Regions from separate parts of the Homo sapiens genome. Here region 2 is linked to region 1. A link means that fine-mapping ties the variant in region 1 to the expression of a gene that starts in the linked region. Tissue or cell type: sun-exposed skin. Region 1 holds a variant in brackets; the other region holds the start of a gene. All regions are shown on one strand. Distances are from middle to middle.

Evidence for each region. PIP is the estimated chance that this variant, and not a neighbour inherited with it, causes the effect.
Region 2: RAPGEF4 starts here. The variant in region 1 is fine-mapped to the expression of RAPGEF4 in sun-exposed skin (GTEx, PIP above 0.99). The same link has a PIP of 0.9 or more in unexposed skin.

What each region holds. Positions count from the first base shown.
Region 1 is chr2:173,016,110-173,024,215 of GRCh38, reverse strand. It overlaps RAPGEF4 (Rap guanine nucleotide exchange factor 4), which reads right to left. Exons shown (of 31, transcript NM_007023.4): 19 at 7,779-7,867; 20 at 7,012-7,042; 21 at 6,712-6,790; 22 at 5,414-5,560; 23 at 3,501-3,598. Among named protein-coding and RNA genes, the nearest start is that of MAP3K20, 56 kb to the left of the region's middle. The variant A/C (reference allele first, on the strand shown) is at 4,654.
Region 2 is chr2:172,731,832-172,739,937 of GRCh38, reverse strand. It overlaps RAPGEF4 (Rap guanine nucleotide exchange factor 4), which reads right to left and starts at 4,093. Exons shown (of 31, transcript NM_007023.4): 1 at 3,890-4,093. The coding sequence starts at 3,954. RAPGEF4-AS1 (RAPGEF4 antisense RNA 1) reads left to right here and starts at 3,732. Exons shown (of 4, transcript NR_026995.1): 1 at 3,732-3,812; 2 at 4,477-4,643; 3 at 5,505-5,633.

The sequences.
Region 1 (8,106 bases):
TAAAAAAAAGAAGTGCTGTAGCAATGCAAATACACAGAAAAGTGTGATCAGTACAACACCTGGATGTAGGAGCGAAATACTGTTGCTCCCAATTTACTCTACACAGGGGACAGAGGACAGGGAAGAAAAGTGATTCCAAAGTTTTAAATCTTAGGGAACTGAACCGAAGCTGATGGGCAAGTAGCATATGGAAACAAATGAGGAGAATGATTTCAACCAGGGTAGGTCCTAGGTAAAAAAAGTTGGGGAAGCTTATACATTTTAGGGTTTACGACTGCCTCTCAGAGGATCAAACTGGCCTTGCACGTTCTTCCTTCCCTCTTGCAGCTGCTGTGAACACAGCCCTTCTGCTGCTCTGCGGAGCTGCCCCTCCTACGTTATTCCTGCTGTTTGCTCTCTCCTCAGGATTGGAGATACCCAGTACACCTTGCTCCTTCTTTTCCTTGAGGCTTTATAACTTTACATAAGGGGGACAAGTTTACCTAACAACACAGGGAAGAGTCTAATATTAAGAAATATGCAAAGTTCTTTTAGTCGTGGATGCTGGTCTATCACTCCTGCAACCCTTTTGAGAGTAACGGAAAGCTCTGTTGAGTCTCAACTTTTCTTTCAGTGGGCAGGGCTCACCAAGTCTCTCTCCCGGCGTAGGGCAGGTTGACCCCTTCCATGAGCCACGGAAGAGGCAATGTGAGCAGCAAAAGGTGCTTCTCCCTTAGAAGTGGGGAATATAAATGCTCACCCTGGACCCCAGAGGAAGCGCCTCCTTGGGCCATTTTCTTGTACATAGCCCTGTGGAAATGTCCTACAGATAAGGCACAGCAGAGCTTATGTGGAGCCTGCATCGCACAGACAGATCTGAAAGCTGCTTACCCACAGACACAGAACTCCCATGCATTTTCTCCCCACGGTTTTTGAGCCATGATTTCTTTGCTAAGGCTGGAGAGGGGTAATTGGGAGAGTAGCATTGTTATCCTCCCATTTTCCAGATGAGGAGACTAAGACATAAAAGGGATGTGTGGATTGTCAGTGACAAAGAGATGGTGAAGGTAAGCTACCCGGAGCATCTTCCTTTCCTCGTGTGCCCACACCCTCTGTGTCTAGCTCTGCTATGGCCCTTGCTGCACTGCATTCTCACTGGTCACATGCGGGGGTGCCTCACTACACTGTTTGCTCACTGAGGTACAAGGACCATGATGGTTTTGTCTTCAAGACCATTTTAGAGCCAGAACCATCTACAATGCCTGCGATGATGTGGTAGGTACTAAATAAAAGTCTGAGGAACCAGTGAATGGACAAAAGTAGAATCACATTATACTACAATGGAGTTTTATAGGAATTTGCTCTGTACTGATATTTATACTTAAATAAAATGTGAAGAGTAAAGTTTCAGAATCTGAACCCTTAACCACTAGGCTAACTTGCCAGCACTCTACTGATTCTATTATAGACCACACAATTTAAGGCTAACATTGAACACTAAGACTTGTTCTATTCCAGGCTGCTTGTGTTAGTCTCATCTCTCTGGCTTTAGCGTAACTGCGGTAAGGACAGAGGCTCTGGGGCACTTGGTTTAGTGTCTCACAGAAGCCAGCACAGCCCCAAGCACAGAGCAGACCCTGCAGAAGCATGTGTGGATGGATCAGAGAGTGTGGCCAACATTCTCTACTGCAGGGTCATCCTCTGTGCGACTCCTCCTCGATGGGCTGTCCTCAAAGGGAATCTTTAGAAAGCCAGAGAAGGAGCTCATTGTCCACAGTTATGTGAGGCAGGTAAGGTTTGGCCACTCACAGCACAATGAATGGCAGAGCGCTGATAGGGAAGAAGTTCATGCCCAGGGTACTCAATGCAGAGGACATTCCTTCCAACGACAGAGGCCTTAAAACAGAGGACGAGCAAGGACTAAGAACTTGGAAGGCTGCAGGACTGTGTGCCAACAAACAGAGGTTTAGAAAGTTAGTATCTGCCCCACAGGGAGCTGAAGACAGTCTGCACTCCCTGTGTCTGCGCCATGTCATTTGGCACTGCGGCCAAGAACCCTCTGGCAAGAGAGTCCCCAGCACCCGTGCAGTAACATGTCACATAGCACCTTTAATGGGGCTGCGCTGAACTGGCTTTTTATGGCTTTCCTTTCCAGGAGAGGGCAGCACGACTCATTTATGACATTTTTTTCCCCAATCCTTCAGTATTGAGAAATATTTATTTAGAAAGCAATGAATGTAGATGACTAAAAAAATATACGGAAAGGCGGGAGGCAGACTCAGATCTTATAAGGCTGGTGATTGAGGAAAGGTGAGCGTGCTTATGGGCTCTGATGGATGAGGGATTAGCAGGAAAACTAATGCCACATTTGCTAAGTTCCTCTCCAAGTGAATTCAAAATATGGTAAAAATCCACCTATCCTCACTGGAGTGCACAAAATGGTACTCTCTAAAACAAAAAATCAGGATTATGATGAGCCTGAAACAACCTCTAAAAAGTCCAAGGAAGAGAATCTTGATATCTATAAGAGCTGATCTGATCAAACTTGAAACCTACTCATGCATCCCTTATGTAAACTCTCTCCCTAAAATTGGATGCAGTTTACCTCTAGCTCTTGTCTTGTGCCTTTCTTTTCTTTTCTTTGTTTTTGAGGCAGAGTCTCGCTCTGTTGCCCAGGCTGGAGTGCAGTGGCGCCATCTTGGCTCACTGCAAGCTCCGCCTCCCGGGTTCACGCCATTCTCCTGCCTCAGCCTCCTGAGTAGCTGGGACTACAGGCGCCCGCCACCACGCTCGGTCTTGTGCCTTTCTTAAAGGAGAAACCCCGTGTATCCAAAGACTGAAGAAACCAGTTTCTCTACCCTCTGAATTGGCCCTCTAGGCTTTCTAAGATATGTTACTAGCTACTCACCTACATACCAAATTCTGGTAGGAGAAATAGAAATGGATGCTACCACCGACTTAAAAGAGAGCAGGCTACTCAGTTATTAGTGTGGTCCTATTAGTCTTTTCTTCACAGAAAGATCTGTCTGTATGCTGGGTAACAAGTGTTTTTGGAGACTTAGGGAAGGGTCTGGACTTTGCCATTTTCTGCATAAGGTAGAGAAAGTGCTTTTGGGGAACAGCATTTCTCTTAGATCAGATGGTGGCTTTGCCATAATGCAAAGGAGCCTGATAAATAGTGATATCTTGCTTTAGAAAAATTATTTCCATCCTGGTGTAAGTATTCAGATTCTTAATATTTAAACTGGGGACATACCAATGAGGCGAATTACAACAAAGAGTTCTGAAAGCTGAATTATGCCCTAATAGTGGTGCTACTTGGCTAATTTTCACAAAAGAAAATCAAAAGCCCTGAGCATCTCAAATGAACACCTGAGGCTTACCTAATAGACTGCAGAAAAAGAAAAAGCTAAGTACCATTCAAGATTTTTTAGCCACTGGGTTCAGTGTGACTGCAAAATTAGGCTCCAGACAAGTTTTTCTGATTGCAATGCTGCTCTGAGCAGGCCATCCACACCTACCAGTGAATCGAATTGCTCTCGCGGGCAAGCAAACAGGCGTCCATTAATGGTGAGCGTCGTAAATACTGAAACATCATTAGGTTTGAGCACCACCTTTTCTGTGAACATAAAAAGCATGAGATTGCCTATTAAATACATCTGAGATTTGCTGCACTGCCCTAATCACACCAACAAATTGCCAGCTTGGTGAATTACCGGAACACGCAGAGTGACTGCATAAAATAGAGTACTGAAGGGATCCACGGAATAAAAAAGACGGCATTCATGCAGCCCTGCGCCACTCAGGATGCCTTCAGAAATGGCCACAAAAAGGAATAGAGATGCCAGAGGGTCAATTCACCCAGTTTTGTGCTGCAACCATAATTACTGAGCACATAAAACCCGCACTTGGCTATTTATCTCACAAGTTATGTTTCCAGATGGTAATCACACCCAGGACTTTGGACATAGAAAGATCACTTTTTAAAAACTTTGGAGGTTTCTGAGACCTCACATGATTTTAGATGCAAAATTTACTATTGTTTTTTCACTTATTCCCTAATTTGCAGGGCAATAGCATTAACTAGATTAAGCCTCCTCCCACATTAAAAAAATTAGTTCTTCAGATGAGAACATGTCAAAAAAATTAAAAAATTAGTTCATTTAATAAACATTTATTTTGTATTTACTGCATGCCAGAAACTGCTCCAGGCACTGGGGAGACAGAAGGGAACAATACAGAAAAAAAATCCCACTCCAAAAAGCATTACATCATAGTGGGAGATGCCAACAATAAAGAAAAGAAATAGATTACAGAGTGAGAAGGCAAGGAGAAAAAAATATCACAGGGGTGGGGTCTAGGAAGCTTGTGTAAGGGGAAGAAGTTAACATTTTAGAAAGGGAATGAAGCAAATGAAGGAGGGAGCTTCAGTGAGACACTGACATTTGGGTAAAGACTGAAAGAAAGTGAGGGTGAGACCTGGGATATCTATGGGAAGGTGACAAGGGGTCAGGGAGGGCAGACATCCTGGGCCTTGTGCAACTGGAGCAGAAATGGAAGGGAGATCTTAAAATCCAACATGCATTTAAAAATCCTCCATCAGTGGAATCATTCACCTTAAAACATGACAGAAATGGCTCACCTGTTCCTGAAGGATTCCGCCAAATGGCTGTC[A/C]AATCATGACTGGAGAAATGAACCTCACTGTTGCTTCCTCTAGTCTCTCACTACAATATGTGGTCATTCCTAAAACTCTTGCCAGCATGAACTGTAATTGTTTTAACTTACCGTCTACCTCCTCCCTGGCCTGGGAACAACCTGGGGACGTGAGCTGTGTCTAACTCATTCTTTCCTTCGTAGCCACACTGTGGCCAGTAAATATGTGATGAACGAATAAATGACATTTCAAAAATGCACCATGTAATCAAGGACAGTGAAAGGAACTGTAATCCCGTGGAGGAAAAATATTCCTCATTTCATTTGAGCCAGGCTCCTAGCCTCTCTACTGAGTAAGGAGAAAAACCATCATCAGCTTCAAAGAACTAGCTTCTGACCACTTCCAACTTTGGACTTGTAGAAACCCATGGCCTTGAGCTTGTCCAGCTAGATTTCCTCTTGGGGCCCATATTTTTCAGGGCTCCAAGGCCTAAAACTTTTTTGAATAGAGTTTAAATTGAAAGAACTCCAGGCCAACATCTACACGACAGTCCTCAGTTCCAGTCACCTTTCTGATTTAGAGTGGGTACCTACCAGATAGGGGACATTAGAAACCCAACCCACCTCTACCCATACTGTTTCTGTTATTAGTGGAAGCATACATAAGCACCAGTTCATCCTCTGGGTGAGCCTCACATGACCACGCTAACTCCTTACATAGTTTCTGCTTGGATGGAATGTCCCATTTTGCAGAGCCTAAAATATGAATTAAGACTGTTACCTCCTCCGGAACTCATCTTGACTATGATCAGGCCCTCCCCGGAGCCCAGCTTGTCGGCAACTGCACTGATGACTTCCTTCACCGAAGTGGCCACTGGCACCCGAATGGTTGTGTAGGTGTGGTCCATGCAATAGACCTTAAACAGAACTATCCAAAGGCAGTAACAAGGTAGTAAATCACTCTTAAGAGTTTTCAATAAAACTATAGTTATGAAAAATGTTTAGGCATCCTCTCCAATTTGCATCATTTTGCCATTTTTGTTACTGTATTTATTCATACTCATTTACCCCTATTCCTGCCCCTTCTAAACTGCTTACCTTAGCATTGGTCTAAGAATAGGTGCACATATGGTTGCCAAGTCCAATTAAAAGAACAAGAGATATTGGTGAAAACCCCACAAAGAGGTCATGGGAAAAAATTGAGAGTATCTTCAGGCTGATGTTCAGGGTCTGAAGTGCTATACTGTAGGCAATTCACAGATCACTGCTACCCTGTGTGGCAGTGGGGAGACACCATTCACCTCTCTGCACACAGGAGGGCTTCCGCCTGGGCCATGAGCACGTGCTGACACTCCTGCTCACTTGCTTCAGTGGCTTGTGTGCTTTGGGGCCAGGCCATGTAAGCTCGGATGCTATTTAGCTCAGCAGACTTAGATCAGCAGATCTGGATATGGCACCCAGAGGCTCAACTCTGAACACAAAAATCCTGGGAGCAATTCCCATTATTATATTATAATTCCTGGGTTTAGAGGCAGTCCTAAATGACAAGATTTATTTATAGCTTTAAATGAAATTTTTATCATTATTATTGTGACTATTTTTGGTTGTGATTCTTTGGAGAATCTTAAATAACCAAACAAAAGCCAGCATCTTGATCTTCCTGATGTAAAGCCTCCCTGCTCAGGGCTGGGCTCAGGGCCAGAGCATTGTCCCTGGGCAGGATGCTGGTGATCCATTGTCTCCTTGGCACCCACTAGGCGCCAGCTACCTTCCCACCAGCTTTTCCCAGGGGTGGGCAATCCTGACAACCAGGCCCTGAGATCATCTTCATTTCCTCCAAGGAAAGGGGTTAAGCAGGGAGAGGCCAAATCAGGGAAAGGTAGACAGGCATCTCGGCTTCAGGCACAAGAGTTTAAGGACATAAATAATCGGGCCACCAAAGGGCACCTCCAAGCAAACCATCTGGAGGGCAACAGGGCATCTTCAAAAGAAGCTATTCTGTGGGTCCAAGGTGATGCTTACCATTATCCTGACTAAATAATCTATACAACTACGAGTTAGTTGGAAGAGGGTTCTCACCTTCATCAGAGCCGCGGATAGGCTGGCGCTTCTGGGCTCTCTCATCGCCCGTATTGAACTGTTGCAAAAGAACCTTGTGCTGTAAAAACAACCACAGCAAGTGCCATAAGGGACAGTGACCAATGCATGCTAGCATCTCAGAGAAGACACATCTGAGAAGCAAGCAGAGTCAAGAAATGAAGACAATATATTTCACGTCTACAAAAAAGAAATCACTTTTATGTATACTGCAATATAATATTTCTGGGGAATTGTAATTCTACAGGACACAGACAGAGAATGCAAGTTCATGCCACCTACCTTCTTTTGTGGTGCCTTTGCATCTTCTGAGCTACGAGAAGTAGAGAAAGCACATTATTTAATACCATTGCTACTATTAAATTGCCTTATTTGTATATAACTAATCTTATGTTAGAAAATGAAATCACAATCACAGAATCCTTTCAGGAGACAATATGAGCTTCCTCATTTTAATAGTAATAGATCAAAGCAGAAGGGTAGACAGCAAAGATATCAGCTCTTGTCACAGGCAGATTCCTGGCAGAACCGATGTTCAAAGCCAGGATTTCTAGCTTTCAAAGTCTATCTAGCAGCACACTCACTCTCTGATACTGCATTTAATCTATAGTTCAAGTAATAGCATGTGAAAACCTTCTGGTTCATTGAGAGGACACAAATATTCACCACCAACAGCTTTGGCAGCAGTTAGTGAATTTTCCATATAAGTAGTTGCCCTCAAACTTTCTTTAAATGCCGCTGGCCATTTTATTGCCAGATTCACTGCCTTGAACCTAAGGGACCCAGGTTTATTGAGTTGGACTCCACCCAGGAGGATCTTTTCTTTCCCAGGCTATCTTTTGGCAGCCCTCTAGCACAGAATGAACAGAATCTCAGTCCTTCTGTTCCTCTGGCCTTACTGCACCACCTATGCCCTCAGCCCAGTCTGCTTAAATCAAATCAAGCGGGGCATGGCTATGGAAAGACCAGCTTTAACCTTTCTTGTGGGCAAAGGACTTTTTGAGATTTACTTGATGAAAGCACACCCCCACAGTCAAGCCCTTCCTTACATTTGCTTGACAATCTTCTCCAACTCTGGCAGTTGCTCCTTGAGGGCAGCAATCATCCGGGCATCATCTGATACAGATACATAAAACTCCTGTAATTGGCAAAAGTCACAGGCTTTTAACAAGAACTGCAAAAGGCACATGATTCTGTCAAGAGCAATAAAGATGTGTCCCTATGTCATCTGCTTCACCAGCATCTCCAGACCATGGCTTCATGGACTGGAGGAAGAACAAAGAAGAAAATGTTACACTATGTCTAAGTTCAAAATTGGCCATGAGAAAAAATTTTGGAAATAGTGGCAATCAATGACTGCACGGATATCAGAAATGA
Region 2 (8,106 bases), 280 kb after region 1:
TTCAGGAATGTGAAAACCATTCTTAGCCCACGAGACATACGGGCAAGCTGTCAGATCTGGCCCACAGGCCATAGCTTGTCAATGCCTGTCCCATCATGATGAATGCCAGCAATGAGTCGCTATACTACATGAATGTGTATGGTCCCTGTCCCTTCATAATACTCCTTTACCAACCCTGAGAACTAGGACTTATAAGTGGATCTGAAGTTCACAGTTGGCAAATTTAAAATCTTACGGGAAAAATATTTTCATTAAAATTAAACAATGGGCCGGGTGTGGTGGCTCACACCTGTATTCCCAGCACTTTGGGAGGCCAAGGCGAGCGGATCAGCTGAGGTCAGGAGTCCAAGACCAGCCTGGCCAACATGGTGAAACCCTGTCTCTATAAAAATACAAAAATTAGGCAGGCATGGTGGTGTGTGCCTGTAATCCCAGCTACTCGGGAGGCTGAGACACGAGAATTACTTGAAACCAGGAGGGGGAGGTTGCAGTGAGTCAAGATCACACCGTTGCACTCCAGCCTGGGTGACAGAGTGAGACTCCATCTCAAAAAACAAAAACAAAAACAAAAAAACTTAAACAATGGTCAGCACACTTAAAAAAAAAAAAGAAAGGACATTTTACCTATCTTAAGTCCCAAATAGTGGGAACTATGTAATTTGTTCCTAGTTGCCATCCCCTCAGAAAAAAATGGTAAGATCCCTGAGATAGTGGTGAGCTTGTTTTACTCTAACAATACATCTGCTGAGACTTTTTTCAATGTTGGTTTATCCATCCAAATGTTCAATGTCCTGTCTTTCTGGTTTTAAGATTAGTATTTGTAGACCCTCATCTCCTCAGTCCCACCATAGTCCAAGATGGTGGATGATTGATACATAAAAAGCTATAGATTTTGTTTCTTTAATCTAATCTACATATCTACAACACTTGCAACACCCTTCCCCACTTGCAAATATTGTCCTGTCTATGATAGCTTTCTAGGCATTCCTAACAAACACTTTAAGGCTCTATTTTCCTTGTGTTTTGTTTCACTTCAAATTTCATTGTATACTTCTTTACTACTGCAGACTTTCTCTTTTAACTCTCTTTTTATTTCCAGTCCCAGGGTTTCTCTTTTTTTCACCATCCACAACAGTTGTCACTTGAATGAGGCATATATTTGAACTGTGTTTCCCAGTTACGTCCTTTTCCCAGTTGAAAGGTCCCAGCATCATATTCCCAAGTGAACCCACATGGGTTCATTGTACTTTCTCTTTTGTGCAGGGTTGAAAATGTCCATAATAAAAAAGATTTTATAAAAATAGAGCATACATTCCTATACTCTAGATTTGGTCACAAGAGGAATTTGTGGTTGGGAAGAAATTAGCATATTCATATGCCACACCACTCCCTGGCATGCCCTCCCTATTCTGTGCCTGGTAAAATTGTTCTCAGCCTCTGAGTTCTAGGCAGGACACCTATGGAAGTATCTCGATAACTCTCTCATCTGCATTCCCAAAGCACTTTATACATCTCCATTAAAGCACTTACTATTGCATTGTGGTTAGCTGTTTATAGAGCCGTCCCACCACCAATCTCCCCTACCCTCTAAGCCTACAAGCAACTCTCATATTTTGTTGCATCCCCAGTGCCCAGCACAGTGCCTGGAAAAGAAGATCAAGATAGCATTTAAAAGAGGATCAAGATAGCATTTCACAGTGCCTGGAAAAGAGGATCAAGACAGCATTTCTCAGAAACATTGAGGGCAGTGTCTCCACTAAACAGGTGTTTCAGGGGGCTTCCCTAGCCAACTTCCATAAACACTCTCAACCTTTCTCCTTTCCTAAAAAAAATAAATAAATAAACAATCTAAGTAAAAACACAACTTCAAAACAAGTCCCCCCATGGCCTTCATACAATGAGATTGCTGCCCTAAACTGTTCCTCATTGGAATTAATTCTGGCATGAACACTGCAGAACATGCAAAGTTCTTTTAATACCACAAAACAAAAAGCCTACATGGCACTCACAGTTTTCAAACTATTTCACCTTTTTTTTCTCCTTCCATTTGTCCACTTATCCCTGATAGTCCTATCCTCATTTTTCAGACACTCAAGGAAGTAAAAGTGACATGTCCAATATCAGAACTGGTAACAGCTCTGTGCCTAAAACCCTTAACTTATTGATCTATCCACTCATCTGACTCTTCTGATGCTAGGCTCAGTATCTGTGAAGGGTTTTTTTTTTTTTCCTAGATTTTTTTCCCATTATGAATGGTGGCATTAAATGGGGGCACCATGCTCTAAAAAATCCATTTCAAGCAAAATCATTTAGGCAGATACACATTATGAAAAGAGAGAGTCGAATATGTCCCACTTGTGTTAGTATTGCTCTATGATTTTGCCATAAGTACTTCTTATTGACTAACGGGTTTCCAGTGAATTACCGACTGTTCAAAAAATGCCATGCCATGCATTTCTACACATAGAAATATGTTATTATCTAAAAATTTTGCTCATAAGGAAGCACTACTATTTATAGGTTAAGTGCAAGATCCTGAATCCCATATAATTCCTTTTTCCTGAACTATTAAATGTAGATACTTATCACATTAACAACCTCTATACTTTAAATACTCTTAGTTCTTCTACATAATCCTGTGTGATTTAACTATTACTTTAATTCTCTTACTATTTATTGCATGCAACTCTTTTAATATTAGTACATATCATTTTAGACATAAATAGGGCACTACCTGCCAAAAAATCTTGCTACTGAGTGGTAATTGAAAGTCAAGATTATTTCTCAGATATATTAAGCTTTTCAAATGAGCTACATTTAGCTTTTCTCAAATTACTTAATATTTTTCAACAAAGGCCTATAATAGAGTATGCAAAGCACGTCACACTTAAGATTTTCAAGTTTGATCTGGTTACGAATCTGTTAATTGAAAATTTTTCAATATGGCAGAGCACAAAATATTTCACACAAATGCAAATAGAGATGTCATGCAGATAGCTGCAAGACGTGCATCATTGCCCTTCTGCATCAAACTCCGAAATTCAGAGGCAGTTCACTCTGCAAGATTTCTTGCTCAGTTCTTAAAAGTTCAGATGCATCACCTTTTAATCAGGGTAATAAGCTATAATTGCTAACATACTGTGTAACGTTTAAACCTGCAATCTGGACAAACAGAAAATTATGCTGTCACAGCCTGGAAACAACTGCAATCCACTGTTAACACACACATCCTCCTTAGAGAGAGCTGTCGTCGGGAGTTACATGCTTTATGGTTTTAATTATTTTTAGCGTAAAGATCTTTTCCCGAGAAGCAGGTATTAAGACGAAAGCAGCCTCCCAAATGACCTTCTCTAACACAGACCTTGAGCGAGCGACTGCGGGGGCAGAGAGCTGTGAATTTCAGCAAGGGATTCGACAGCTCCACCGGGTCCCTCACACTTTGCTTTCAAGAACAAAAAAAGAATGTTACTCTGCACCTGCCGGTGCCCCCACCCCTCTTTAAAACTTCATACCCCGCAAGGTCTGAATAGCCGGAAAGGGTATGCATCGATTCTTCTGTCCCGTGATGCCAAGAGAAAATAAACCCCCACCCAGGAGCGGAGCCTGGAGTCGCGGCAGGGCAGGGGGTTGGAGAGGTGGGTGCTCTCTCCCCTTACTGCGCTGCATTTTCTCCACCACGTGTAATAATCTCATGCCGCTGGCACCCCACGAGAGGCGGGGATCCTTGTCCTCCTGTCTCCCGGACGAGGACCTCAACCCCTTCCCCCGCTCGGGGACCCCGGCCACCCGCAGCCCGGCCGCGCTGCGCCCAGGTGCGGAGCTGCGGCGGTCTCAGGGCCCGGGCAGCACCGCAGAGCTCGGCCCCCGGCTGCGGCCCCCGGCGAGCTACCTTTTATCCAGGCAGGCGATCCACTCGGCAGAGGAGGAAGAATGGGCAGCGTGCGCAGCGACCATGTTGAGCGGCGGCGCGCGGTGTCCCTGGCTGCGGCGACCTCCCGCGCTCGCTCTGCCTGCGCCTCCGCCCCCGCCTCGTCCGCCGCGCGGACCCCGCTCCTCCCGGACGCCTGGCGACCAGCGCGGCTGCGACAGGCCCGCCCTCCCCGCGGGCTCCCGCGGCCTGGGGCGGTGGGGAGAGGGAGGGGACCCGGGGGGCGGGACGCGGGTGCGGGGAGGGCCGAGTCGCCCGCCCGCCCGCCGCTGCACTGCGGCGCCCGTGGGTGGGGATTCCGCCCCGGGGTGGGGACCCCGCGGTCCCGCTGCTGGGGGACACTGGGGGTGGCGACCCCGGTGGCCGGCCACCTGCGACAGGTGTCCGCTGCGTCCCTCGGAGACTGGGGCCCCACCCTCACCCCGGGGCCTCTGAGGCGGGGCGGGAGGGCAGGCGCCAAGGCAGAGTGGGGAGAGGGCTGCCAGTGTCTATATATTTTTCATACAGCAAATGCTACTAAAATGGCTGCTGCCTCTCTGTTTCCTTAGAAACCCATGAGTCTTCCTCAGCAGCTGTCGAAACTTGCCGGCGGTTGCTTGCTCACCTTTGCTGTCTCCCCTTCAGAAAAGGCTGGAGGGGAGGGCGAGGAAGGCTTGGCGTGGGGACGCCCGTCGAGTCTCTCAGTGAGGAATGAGAGGCCAGCTTCTCCTGCGGGGTGAGGAAGGGCTGGGCGCAATGGGGGGCAGTGCGGGCAGGGCTGAGGGGCAGGGAGGGAGGAGGCCGGTGGGCCCGATGTGGTCTGAGGGGGTGACAGGCTGAAGTCACTGGCCTTGAACCCTGGGCCTGCCTGGGCTTCCATCACCTGCATGGTGAAGAAAACACAGTTGAGAATGGGGAGTAGCCGGGCCACAGCAGAACCGAGACCCCGGACGCGCAGGTGAACTTGTATGGCTGGCCCCCTTGCTGTTCTTCCTCTGGCTGGAGTGTTGAATGGGTGGTGATAACGGCCTGTCTCTTGTAGATGTTCACACAAATGTCATGTCTACAAGTTATTCAGTTACACTCTGCCAAGAACCAAATTACACGCCAATGGTTGTTTAGGAATTTGCGGACAAGTTAAATGTTTTGGACTATTACCAAGCACTGTTTTGATATTTATGGCACTACATTTGGGGCCAGACAATGGGGGAAAGGGACATAGCATTGCTTTCTTCTACTGTTCCCTGCCTCCTCCCCCCACCAAACCTCCTATCCAACCCTGCTCAGGGGAGAGTCAGGGGGACTGGAGAGAAGGAAAGAGCAAGTGCTTTCTGGGATGCTTTGATCCTAATAAAACAATTATTACCATGATATAAAAGCCTCCAAATATGTGCCATTTCCCTCTGCTGGATAGCCAGGATCTAGTTTCAGACCTGCCACAGTGTTCCCACAGCAACTCCTCCCTCCCTGCTCAGGGCTTTTCCCCCAGTTAACCTTCATTCTGTTAATTTCTATCATGTTTATGCTAATATTTAAAATAATATACTATAGAAAGATTAACCAAAGGTATTTATGTTGTGGCTTTTTTACTATACAGGTATGAAGGAGGAACTGTATCTCCTATATATATTAAGTTTCATTTATAAAGACATCAGAGAGCACCTGAGAATGTTTCAAGGTCACCAAAAGCTTTCTGAAAATGCCTTTCTGCAAAGAAGGTTTCCAGGTAAGGAGCTAGAGGAGAAAGGAGCTGCACATCACCTGTCATCACACAGAGGCTCAGAGTTGCCATAGCTTTGGTTATGATACTAATAATAGTCGCCATTTATTGAACATCCACTGAGTGTTAGACCCTGTGCAGTACTCCTTACATGTGTGATCCCATTTAATCTTCAGAACACTCTATGAGGCAGAGCCAGAAAGACACTACTCCACAAACAGCAATAAATATCCTTGAAAATGTAGTGAAATATTGAAAATGATATGTATCAGTACTTTCAGGGAGAGTGTTAATTGGATTGGAAGGAAGACACTGATGAGCTGCTGGGAGTGAGAGTGAGACCCTCGAGGAGTCCACAGTGCATTTTAAGGAGTGTAGCTCTGATGAACTGCAAGGCCTTTGTTTTGCTGTGTGGGGGCCCTGCCTCTTCTCTAAAGAGAAGTTGAAGACTTATTTAAAGAACATCCTTTCGAAGGAGAACCAACAATCACTAGCTTGTCCAGAGCATGCTCATGTCTTCATCCAGCCCTGGAGGTAGGTACAAGTAACTCCAAGATACTCACTAAGACACTGAACTCAGGAAGGGTCCATAACCCAGCTACAGGAGATGGGGCCCCGGAGTGGAATTTGGGTCTGTCTGATTCCAAACCCTTCCACATCAGTGATGGTGTCCCTGTTTCTGCCAATAGAATGGGAGTATAGGGCATGTCTACAATGACTGTCCAGAGGGTAAGAACAAAATAGTTATAAATCAGTTTTTTAATGTAAAAATAGAGAAATGTGTGAGGAATTAAAAAACAGAGATCCTTAAAACATCAGGAATAGCTTTACTGTCCTATAGATTATCTTGTGATCTGAAAGGGATTTGATTGCTGGTCAAGAACTACAGGAGTAAAGGAAACTCTGTTGATAATTAGTTATTATAGTATTAAGAGGAAGAAAACAGGCTTTTGCTTGGATTGGATGGGAAAGGCAAAGAACCAAAGAATATTTATTCATTTCCCTCTCTTTAAAAGAACACAATATATGTCAGTCCCAAAAGAGCATATGTTGTATGATCCTATTTATGTGAAACTTCCAGAAAAAGCGAATCTATAGAGATGGAAAATAGATTAGGGATTGCCTAAGGCTGGGAGGTGGGAATAAGGGATGACTGCAGATGGGCCTGAGAAATCTTCTAGAAATGATCTAAAATTGAACTGTGGTGATGGATACACAACTCTATAAATTTAATAACAATCATCAAATGGTATAGTTAAAATGAGTGAATTTTACAGTATGCAAATTATCTCAATAAAAATGTTAAGTAAATAAAATATTAATAAACCTATATGGAGAGGAAAAATAATATGATTGATCTTTTGGGGGGAAACAGAGAAAAATATAGGAGAAAAAGTAAAAATTACCCATAATTCCATAACATAGAGGTAATACTGTTAATATTTTAGTGCATTTAATTCTAAACTTTTCTATTATGAAAAGATACAATCAAGGCCAAGCACAGTGGCTCACATCTGTAGTCCCAACAATTTCGGAGGACAAGGCAGGAGGATTGCTTGAGGCCAGGAGTTCAAGACCAGCCAGGGCAACATAGTGAGACCCCCCCCATCTCTACAAAAATTAAAAAAAAATTAAAAATTAGAAGTGATATGATCATACATGTACCCACAAACACATACATATAACTAGCTATGTGTATGTATATGTGTGCATATATGTATGTGTATAGATACATGTATTCAAACAGACTTGAAAGCATTAATAGTTTATAGGCTACTTTTTCTATTGGAATGGAAAAATGCTTTACTTTCCTTAAAAAATCCTTAAACATTTTTTCCTGGCCACCAAATATTCTAGTGTACAGTTATAATTTACTTACACTATCTTTTGAGACTTGTTTTTTCACTTGGAAAAGGTATTATCTGTTTAATCTCCTTCCTATAGTTTAGTGAATTCTTTCTCTACTAGAGAACTAAGATCTCTACTGAAGATCTCCATGAGACAAGGATGAGACAAGACCAATATCTGTTAATGCTATGTAGATCCTCGAATGAGTTGCTAAAATGTCTGATTTCCATTTTGTTCATCTGAGCAGAGGTTCAAAGTTAGGAATTTGAAGGCAGGCAGCCAAGTTCAAATTGCAGCCATATCTTCTACTAAATGTTTGGCCTTAAATTAACTACTTAGCCTAAGACTCCGTTTCATCATCTGTAGAGTGGAGAAATTAATAGTATTATACATGAATTTGGTATTTGTAAGATATTTAGCATAAGTGCCAAGCACATAGTGAGTGTTCAATAACTCTTAGCTATTATTCTCCATATAGTGCAAATAATACTAGGTGCTCTCTGCATTTCACAGGGACCTGGTGGTGATAAGCTGTCGAGATCACTTATGCTAAAGGGCTTCGACATCTATAAATTGCAAGTTTTGGCTATAAAGGATATGAGGGATGGGTCTCCTGAGAAACCCATAGAAA